Linked DNA regions of Homo sapiens. The protein of the gene in region 2 purifies or fractionates together with the protein of the main gene of each other region. This does not show direct contact. Each region holds a gene or a part of one and is shown on either strand. Other genes may lie near its edges.

The links. Proteins that work in one complex are often made in the same cells at the same time.
Region 1: the proteins of NYAP1 (region 2) and ARHGAP26 purify together in Homo sapiens (affinity purification with western blotting, with the first as the bait; one study listed by BioGRID). This does not show direct contact.

Annotation. Positions count from the first base shown.
Region 1 is NC_000005.10:142,776,283-142,781,333, forward strand, and holds part of ARHGAP26 (rho GTPase-activating protein 26), read left to right. Parts: intron 1-5,051. UniProt on the Homo sapiens protein: GTPase-activating protein for RHOA and CDC42. Facilitates mitochondrial quality control by promoting Parkin-mediated recruitment of autophagosomes to damaged mitochondria.
Region 2 is NC_000007.14:100,481,977-100,487,576, forward strand, and holds the start of NYAP1 (neuronal tyrosine-phosphorylated phosphoinositide-3-kinase adapter 1), read left to right. Parts: upstream 1-1,950; 5' UTR 1,951-2,025; intron 2,026-3,251; 5' UTR 3,252-3,335; coding exon 3,336-3,403; intron 3,404-4,844; coding exon 4,845-5,206; intron 5,207-5,600. UniProt on the Homo sapiens protein: Activates PI3K and concomitantly recruits the WAVE1 complex to the close vicinity of PI3K and regulates neuronal morphogenesis.

The DNA.
Region 1 (5,051 bases), on a different chromosome or scaffold from region 2:
CTTAAGTGTATAATTCAGTGGTTTGTAGTTACAGAGTTATGCAACCATCATCCTAGTCCTGTTTTAGAACATTTTTAGCACCCCGAAAAGCTTTCTCATGCTCATTTGCAGGCACTGCATTTTTGCCTGAAGCCTCATACAACCACTGATCTACTACTTTCTGTCTCTATAGATTTCTCTTCCCTGAAAAATTAAGCTAAATGGAATCATATAATATGTAGTCTTATGCATCTGGCTTCTTTCACTAAGCATGCTGTGTTTGAGGCTCATCGTGTTGTAGCATGTATCAGTAGTTTGTTCCTTTTTATTGCTAGAAAATATTCCATTTTGTAAACCATAAGTTGTTTATCCATTCACCAGCTGATGATTTGGGTCATTTCCAGTTTTTTGCTCTTATGAATAATGCTGCTATGAATGTTTGCATACGTGTCTTCATGTGTATATATGTTTTCACTTCTAATTTCATTTTTTACCTAGGAGTAGAATTTTGCTGGGTTGTATGGTAAATTTATGTTTAAGTTTAATTTAAACTTGTGTTTATTTAAAAAAACCTACCATACTGTTTTCCATAACAGAAGCACCGTTTCACATTCCCACCAACAATGTATGAGGATTCTGATTTCTCCACATCCTCGCCAATACTTGTTGTTGTCTTTCTTTTTGATTGTAGCCACTCTAGTGGGTGTGAAGTGGTATCTCGTTGTGGTTTTAATTTGCATTATCCTGGTGACCAATGAGGATGAGCACCTTTTCATGTGTTTGTTGGCCATTGGTGCGTCATCTTTGCTGAAATGTCTATTCAGATCTTTTTTTTCCTTTACTTTGTCTCATAAAACTTTTGATGATTAAGTGAACAGCACTTAGTATATTTTCTCCATTTGCCCTCTTTTGGGGACTATTTGTTTCCATGTGCTTCAACCTTAGATGTATTTAACTGATCAGTTTCAGGATCTCAGGAATTAGGAAGTGGTTCTTATGAGGCTGTGGTTCAGATTTCTGCTCTTGTTAGGCCAGTGGGCATCGCTCTGGGCAGATGCCACACAGGCTGGACTTCCTAATTCTGGCCTGCATAAGCTAATGATCCAAGCCCTCTCAATGGACAAAATGAGAACCGGCCAAGGAAGAACTGTTATCACCATTGAGCTACTGGGGAAAGCAAGTTGTAAAGGGGACTTTGTTATCCTGTCAAGGTCATTGCATTTCTAAAAATTAGCCAGTGGAGGAATACTAACCTAGCAGTCAAAGTAGTTTTTCTAGATTTAAGTTTCTGAGTGAGCCTCGTTTTACCTTTTAAAATTATAACCCCTTCTGTTTCAAATTATATATTTTTTGCCATCAGAAGAAGAGTTTCGTTCAGGAAATACGGAGACCCTGCTCTGCCTTTACCATGTCCTCCAGAGCCCTAGACTAGAGTAATGGCTTTTTGGATGGAGGTAACCAATGTAGGAGTCATTAGCGGGGAGATTGAGTGGGATGTTTGGGGGCCAGTGGCGCGGCCAGTTGTGACTGTAGCAGAGTGAAGGCGAATGCACAAAGAGATAGGCCAGGGCAAGGTCATAGGGATCTTGAATTCTAGAAAGGACTTAGAGTTTTATTCTAAGTGTGATGGGCAGCCATGGAAGGCTGTGCCATGATCGTACTCATACTTTAAAAAGATTATGTAGGCAGCTGTGTAGAGACCAAGCGTAGTGGAGCAACAATGGAGGCAAGATGACCAGTAAGGAAGCTGTTGTAATAGTTGAGGTGAGAGATGATGGCACCGTGGGCTAGGGTGACAGCATCACAGATGGTGGTCAGAGGCTGGGTATTTTTGGAAGTAGAGCCCACAGGATTTGCTGCACAGCATATGGGCTATGAGAGAAAAGAAAGAAGTCTAGAATGATTCAGATATTTTTGGCCTGAGCAGTTATGTGAATGATGGTACTATTTGCTAAAATAGTTTGCTTGGGAAGGATTAGGTTTAGGGGTAAAATTAACAATATGAATGAATGACCTAATCTTATAATGCAAAGACAAAATATTATGACATGGATAGTTCCTGAATACATTCTCATGCAAGCATCAAAGAGTATAGACGTATACAGTGTAAAAGCACCCCCTTTTCCTAGCTAACAATCATTGTTAGCAGTTTGGTATGCATTTTTTCTTGTCCTTTTTCTGCGTGTTTTTTTCATAAATGGGATTATACTATAAGGATTATTTTGTGTTTTGCTTTTCGAGTTGATCATTTGTCTTGAAGACCTTCCATGTCAGTACATGCATGTAGTGCATTCTTTTTAATGACTGCAGAGAGCTTTATGTGGATATGCCATAGTTGGTATTTACTCAGTTTCCTGTTGAAGGATATTTGGATTGTCTCTGTTGTTCACTATTAGAAGGCGTGCTGCAGTGATTATTTGCACACCTGCTTTTGTGTGTGGATTCCAGCATTTCCCTGAGATGGATTCCTTCAAGTGGAATGGTTGCTGGCTCCAGTTTTTACAAGCCCTTTGACATCTGTTGTTTAGGTCCTTTGCATCCTTGTAGCCGGTTGATAATTTGGTGCTCCTTTGAGTATGTTAGATTGTTTCTGAAGCTTAATCTTTTGGTTAAATCAGAAGCATCCTTAACAGACCCTTCTGTTAGACACTGACACTGATTTTAAAACAACCAAGGGATAGAAAAAAAAAAAAAACTTAGTGTGTGTGTATGTGTGCCAGGGAAAGAGAGATGACAATTAATTGGATGTGTCCCTATTAGCCCTGGAACTGCTTGATATGCTTTCTGAGTGGCATGTTCTTATAGGTCAGATGGGAGATGGGATGGGGCTTTGCCCATATCTAAGAGTCTATTCTAACCTCCAGGCTCAGGGACTAGGAAGGAAATCATGTTTATTTAGGGTGAGAACAACAGCATTAGCAGCCAGAGGAATTTTTACAAATTATAGTGACTGGGGTTTACACATTTTTGTAGCACCTCAGAATGGAGAGAGAGGAAATGGTAAGGAAAACAGCTTGGCAGTGTGGGCCACGAGCTGTCATGGCATGTTTGTGTCTGGCTCATTTCACCTTGATTGGAAGGCACAGAATGCTGCCCTGGGTAAGCTGGAGACTGGGCAGTTTCCTGCTATATTTAGAAAGAGGAGATTCCTGGGGTTAGGGTGGTGTGTGTGTGTGTGTGTGTGTTTTCTTTGCCAGATAGACAAAGGTTTGAGGGGTTTGTGAATTCCACACCAAACTGTTAACTAGCTGGTTTCTCTGGGCCAAGCCAGTAGCTACTCTTTGACTCTTGCTGCTGCCACACAGCAAAAGCTCAAAAAACTCCTATTTTATATGGTTTGAAAAGATACCGCTGGTAAGTTTCAAAACTCATCTGATCTTGCTGTCACATCTGCTTTTAAGTTTACTGCAGGCTAATTTGAACACTTTGAAAATATGAACTGCCTCCTCCTCTGAGACTTCAGATAGATCTCCAAGCTGACTGAGTTGAACTTTGGCTGTTTCTGTGCCAAGGAGACTGTCAAACAGATAGGACCAAAGCCTTAGCAAATTCCTGACTGCGTATCTCGTTATCACACTTGTGGGTCAGGGGTAGACAATGAATATTAGTCGAACAAATAAAATAAGGCATTTTTACTTTAACTCATAGCTATGTTTCTTTTTAAAAGGGTTGCCTAAATAGGTAATACCTATAAGTTGTTCATAATTCAAAAGAGACAAAAGAGAATGTGAATATCCCTCCAATGCTTCCTGTCTCCTGATCCCCACTTCTTCCTCTGGAGGCATTTTATTGGTTTCTTTGGTATTTTTCAGATGTAATTTATGCATGTGCCAACAAATACACATACACATTGTGCCATATGTGCTGTTTTACCCTTTGCTTTTAATATATTAGATATTATTCTACATTGGTACATAGAGAGCTCACTCATTGTTAGATTGCATTGTATTCTATTGTATGAATTAAATATAGTGTATGTAACCATTCCCCTAATAATAAACATTTAGATTATTTCCAACCTTTCACCATTGCAAGTAATGTTGTTGTGAACATCCTGGCACCTCTGGCATGAGGCACATGAGTGACAAATTCCTAGAAATGAAACTGCTGGACCAAAGGGTATGTACATTTTTCATTTTAATAAGTATTTCATAACAGTGTTTCTGAAAAGTTCTAAGTGAACTGAATTTGATAAACCATGATTTTAGAGTAGGAAGGAAACTCACCATTTTAGACAGTTTATTACAGAATGGTCTCTGTAAATAAAACAATACTTAGAATTTTCTCCATTTTCCCCTTTCCAGTTTGTGTGTATTGTTAATTCTGGGATTAAAAGCCACAGCAAAAATCATTCCCTAAACTGAGACAGCTGTACCTAGAAATCAGTTGAATGTAGGATCCCAGAGACCTTGTTTGTGTTCCTAGTGATGGTGCTGTTGAGTTTTTATCTTTGTGCGGTGCGTGTAACATTCAGGAGATTCGGCAGGTTTGTTGAAGGAGGGCAGTCTTCTGCCTTCTGTGACCGGAGACCGTGACTCTGGTCTAGGGGACACGTTGCCTATCATAGAAGCTTCCCGGTGGGCACTGGAATTCCTGGGAGCTGGTGAGGGAGTCGGGAGTTTTGCATGACATCTCTCTCTGGCAGCTTCTCCTGCAGAGCTTAGCACTTTTCCCTGATAGAGGACAGGATCATGCCACATGTCCTCTGCCATCTCTGTTCCAGCTCCTGTTGATGTAGAAGGCTACATTGGCCAGGTTCCTGGCATGAAGCAGGCACAGTCCTTGTCTCCTAGATGCTCACTGTTTTGAGAGGAGGCAGGGAAACAGGCAGCCCACAGCACAAAGGGGAGATTGCTAGCAGTTTAAAAGGGCCTCTGGGGGAGGGAGCAGAGGCCTGTGGGAAAGGCAACTGAAGGCTTATCGAGCCCAAGGGGGCAGTGTGGTCACTAATGATCAGTCATGTGAAGGGTACCTCTGTTATTTTTGCCCCACCTCACCACCCTTTATTTACTTTGAAAAAAGTCTACTCATTACAAAATACATTTATTTCAAAAAGGAGCTTTTGAACCTGC
Region 2 (5,600 bases):
TGTAGGCACCCGCCACGACGCCTGGCTAATTTTTGTAGTTTTAGTAGAGATGGGCGTCTCATCATGTTGGCCAGGCTGGTCTCGAACTCCTGACCTCAAGTGATCTGCATGCCTCAGACTCCCAAAGTGCTGGGATTACAGACGTGAGCCACTGCTCCCGGCCTATACATATAAACTAATCATACTAAAGGTATAAATGTGAAATGGGTTTTAAGTGTTTTAATATTTCCCTCCCCTGGGAGCATTCTTAATAGCCTATAATATGTGGGACCTTTTACAATTTACAAGGCACTTTGGTATTATTTTACTACCCCTCCCCTTCCAAAGAATGGACTAAAGCCAGCTTGTCCAACCGCACGGGCAGCTTGTGGCCCAAGACAAATTGGTAAATTTTCTTAAAACGCCTAAGTTTTGGTTTTTGTTTTTGTTTTCGTTTTTTTTTTTTTTTTCTCTGAGACAAAGTCTCTCTCTCTCACCCAGGCTGGAGTGCAGTGGCCCGATCTGGGCTCACGTCAACCTCTGCCTTCCAGGTCAAGCGATTCTCCTGCCTTGGCCTCCCGAGTAGCTGGGATTACAGGCGCAGGCCACCATGCCCAGCTTATTTTTTCTATCTTTAGTAGACACGGGGTTTTGCCACGTTGGCCAGGCTGGTCTCAAACTTCTGATGTCAGGTGATCCACCAGCCTCGGCCTCACAAAGTGCTGGGATTTACAGGCGTGAGCCACCGCGCCCCGCCAGTGTTAAGAGTATTTTATGTGTGGCCCAAGACAAATTCTTCTTCCAATGTGGCCCAGGGAAGTTAAAAGAGTGGACATCCCCGGACTAAAGCGTCTCTCAGAGAGGTTGCACGATCTGCCTAAAGCCACACAGCAAGACTGCAAAGACGCTGCCATGGAAAGTAGCATTCGCAGGCTCCAGGGATCAGGCCGTGCCTATCTTTGCCGTGCCCATTTTCCAGCCCGTGGAAGGTACAACCGAGGTCTTCTCGAGCTGATTTACCCCCGCTGCAGAGCTGTGAGCCCAAGGGATTTCAGAGGGAGTTATTTCTAGGGGAGATAATGAGAAAAGAAAAGATAAATGAGAAAAGGGGAGGTCGAGGTCACGTCCCGTAGCGGCCCCCCGACAGTGCCAGGGTGGTAGCCGCGGTGGCCACACTCAGGTCGACCCTGGTCGTTGCGAGCGGCGCCGGGGGAGTCAAAGGTCACGAGAGGAGGACTCGGGCCACGGGGGCGGATAGCTTTGAGCCCAGACGGTGGAACGAGATCCGGGCACCCCCGGGAGGCTGCAGGGGGAGGCAGCCGATTCCCCCGCGAGCCAACTCAGGTGCTCTCCTGGCACCTGGGGGCGGTGGGGAAAGGGGGCGCGGCCGCCGGAGCACGCCCCCTGCTGGGCTGAGCCGCCGCCCGTCCCGTTCCCCACCCTCGGAGCCCCTCGGCCCGGAAAGCGGCACCCCCTGGCGGCCCCAGCGCCTCACTGCACCCCGGGCCCCGCAGCCGCAGCCTCGGCCCCGGACCGACGCTGGGTGCGGACCCGGGGCGCGCCGGGCGTACGGGTTGCACGGGGTGCACGGGGTACACGGTGCGGGGGCGTGGGCCCCAGGCTGCCGCTGGGGGGCGCCGCCGCACGCCGCTCCGCCGGGGCCGGGGAGACCGAACTCAGCACCGACCGGCCGGGCAGGGGGCGAGGGGCGGCGAGGAGCGGACGCCCAAAGACCGCGACGGGCTGGCGCCGGGCCCCCAGCGCCCCACGACCTTCCTCCGAATCTGCCCCCGCAGGCTCCGCGGCTCCCCCGCCCCGCGCCCCAGCCCCACGGCCCCGCGCCGCACGGCCGCTCCCGTTCCGTCCTTGGAGGGTGTGGAAGGGTGGGTTTGGGGCCGGGGGCGGGTCTGGGGGCGGACCCGGAGGCGGGGCTGTCTCTGCGGCAGGGCCCAGCTTCGCTCCCCCCGGTCTGTCTCTGTCTCTCCTCCTCCCTCCTCCTGCTCCGGGCGGAGCCCGGCATGGGGGGGCCGGCGCCCGGCAGGCCAGGTACGGTGATGGAGAACCTGGGGAGGCTTGGTGCAGGAAGGTTGGGGTGGGGGGACAAGGGACAGGGAGGATTGGCGGAGCGAAAGGCGGAGAAGCCCAGGGTAGCAGGACAAGGGGAAGGGGAGGGGTGCCAGGAACCTGGGGCCCTTGGATGGAGAAGGGGGATGAAGCAGGCCAGGTTTGGAACAGGGGAAGGGGGAGGACGGCTGTAAGGAGGGGCGCCTGGGAGGAGAAGTGAGGCTGAAGGCGAAAAGAAGAGTGTGGGTTTGGGGGAAGGAAAACCGGAGCAGGTATGGAGGCCGCAGCCCAGAAGGTAGCAGTGGGGCCAGACTGGAGCCCCCCGGGTGGGATTGAGGGGCGGGGACTGGAAGAGGAAAACCAGGGGGCCTCCCAAATCCTGGAGGAAGAAGAAGGTGATTGGGGCCATCAGCGAGGGAGGGAGGCAGAGACTAAACCATTGCTAAAGGGCCAGGGAGCCAGAATCGGGGTGGACCAAGGCCCAGGCCCGGGGAAGGACTGGAAGTGGGGGAAGGCAGGCAGTGGAGATAGATGGATGGGTGGTATTTTAGATACCCAACTCAGGGTGTCTCCCATCCTTCCTTCAGCGTCCCCACCCTGCCCTCATGAGATCCCCCTACAGCCCAAGATAGGGGGGAGAGTCTGACCATCTCCCCTTTTCCCAGTGGGGTGCAATGTACGCAAGTAGGCCCTGGGCATAACTCTGCCTGTAGGTGTGTCCAGTTCTGTGTAGCAGATTTGTGTGTGTCTGGAGGTCTGTGGGTGTGTCTGTGGGTGTTTATGTCTGTGTGCCTGTCTATCCCTAGGTTTCTGTTTACCTATGCCAATCTCTGCGTCTGGTCCTCTGTCTGTAGATGTGGGTCGGTGGCTCCGTGGTTTGTGTGTCTGAATGTGTACTTGTGTAGCTGAGGGGTTGCAGTCCGTTTGTGGGGCCTGTATGGGTGGTGGATCGGGATGTCTTTACACAAGAAGGGAATCTGTGTTGACCTGGTCTCTCCAGAGTGTGTATTTGGGGCTCTGAACACCTTTGTCGGGGTCTGTGTCTGTCTGTCTGTGGGTCCTCGAAGCTGTGTTGGGTTTTCTGTCTGTGTTTTCCTCTCTGAGGACCCGAGTCATGTCTCTTCTCCGTTTTCTCTCTTTCATTCATCCCTGGCCCCCACCCATCCCACCTTTCTTTTTTTTCCGTTCTCACCCACCCCGCCCGCCAGTGGATCCGGGACCCAGGGAGGGCCGCCCCCCGGGCCTGGTGGCACTGAGCAGGGCCCCCCAGCCCCCACCTCCTGCCCCACGAGATGAACCTCCTCTACCGAAAAACCAAGCTGGAGTGGAGGCAGCACAAGGAAGAGGAGGCCAAGAGGAGGTAAGGCTGCACCCCAGACTGCTCCCTTCCCTTCCGCACCTCTGCCTGCCCCCTCACTGGGCCACAGCCCTTCTCGGGGGCCGGCAGCCTTGTCATGAGTGAGCTCTCTGATCTCAGAGTCAGTACGGAATGGCCAGGATTGCACACACTGTCCTGGCCCAACTCCTGCTCTCCTGTGGGGGGGTTTACAGCCTAGGAGCACCCCTTTGGTTGTTCCCCATCCCCAGAGGCCCGAGTCACTCCTTCCTGACTCACCTCTGGCCTGTAGCCCTTCTCCTTTCTGCAAATTTGGGGCTGGCTGCGGGCTCTCCTGTCACCTGACCTTGGAAGGGGCAGGCCCCGCCTCTCTCCCAGGGTCTAGGGAAGGGGTCATTTCAGGGGCATCAGAGAACATCCACTTGGCCTCCTCCCAGTTTTCCCTGCTGGGGGAGGTGAGTGGTCAAGTGATGGGGTTGTGTGTGTGGTGGGCAGACATGCAGGCTGGGCCTTGCCAAAGAGCCAGGGCAGGGGACGACCTCCAGACCCCTGCAATCCCTGTCTGCCTCCCCGCTTGCCCTTCCAGGGACCTGGGGCCTGGCCTCTCCCATCCTTCTCTCCTTCTCCTCTTCTCTCCCATTGACTTCACAGCCACTTGGAGCCTGACTCACAGCCACCTCCCTTTTCCTTCCTCGCAACTGTGGAGTTTAATTCTTGTTGTTAATTAGATTAATCAGAGTGATCGCTGCAGCGATCTCTCCCTAATGAAGGGCTAGTAGACAGGGCCTTAATGAGTGCCCACCCCACACAGCTCTCCTCTCTTCCCTGCCAGCCGCCCCCCCAACCCTCTGCCACCCTCCACTCAGACAGAAGCTCAGGGACAGTGGAATGGAATGGGGGTGAGCCGGGGAGGCTGACAGAGAGAGAACAGCACCAGGGGAGAGGGAGGAAGAAGGATGGGCCAGGGAGGGAGGCTGCTCTGGTCCTGGAGGGGCACATCCTGCATCTGGGAGAGGAGGTGTGCCGTGGGGGCAGAGGTCACAGTGGCTGGGCAGGAGGGGTAACCAGAGGCCAGGTGTGGGCCACTGTGAGAGTGAGAGGGGCCAAGGAGCTGTGGGGGGCAGGCGTGTCCATCTGTGTTACCTGGGTTTGTATCTCTACCTCTGCACAAGGCTGTCCACACAGGTGCCCAGGCTGGGATCCGCCAGCCCCAGGGATGCTCCCCTGCAGGCATACTCACCCCTCTTCTCATCCCTGCCCCCAACTGCCTTGTGTTTTTAAAGCCCAAGATTCTGCCTGAAGCCCCTTCATTGGTGCCCTGGACCTTCTGGCAACCCTGTCCCCACCCAGGCTCCCGTCCTCTTCCCTGGGAAGCCACAGGGTTGCTGACACCTCTTGGGGTGGAGAAGGGGGATGCCCAGGTCCGAGGCCCTTCCTCCACTCCATCGTGGCCTTCTCTCCCCAGCTCCAGTAAGGAGGTGGCCCCCGCTGGCTCGGCTGGGCCCGCGGCCGGCCAGGGGCCTGGGGTCCGCGTGCGGGACATCGCCTCGCTGCGGCGCTCCCTCAGGATGGGTTTCATGACGATGCCCGCCTCCCAGGAGCACACCCCGCACCCCTGCCGCAGCGCCATGGCCCCACGCTCCCTCTCCTGCCACTCGGTGGGCAGCATGGACAGTGTCGGGGGTGGCCCTGGCGGGGCCAGTGGGGGCCTCACAGAGGACAGCAGCACCCGAAGACCCCCTGCCAAGCCCCGGAGACACCCCAGCACCAAGCTCAGCATGGTGGGGCCTGGGTCTGGGGCAGAGACGCCCCCCAGCAAGAAAGCAGGTGAGATACCCCCTATCTCTCCCTGGGGTGGAGCTGGGAGCTGGGAGGATCTATTCCACGCCCGGGGAGGCTTGCCGGGAGGGTTCATTCAGGGAAGAACCAAGGAAGTGGAAGATTCCATTCTCAAAAGGAATTGGGGGGGTCCTTTTGGATGGGCCTGAGATGAACCATTCAAGGGCAGGGGACACTCCCTGAAAAGTTCTTGAGAAAGGGGTGGTGGCCTCAGAGGGACAATGAAGGTAGGAGCTGCGAATTCTGGAGAATACGTTAGAAAGACTGAGGGCTGTGGGACAAGCCCCGTGGCTCACGCCCGTAATCTCAGCACTTTTTTTTTTTTGAGACAGAGTCTCGCTCTGTTGCCCAGGCAGGAGTGCAGTGGTGCGATCTCAGCTCA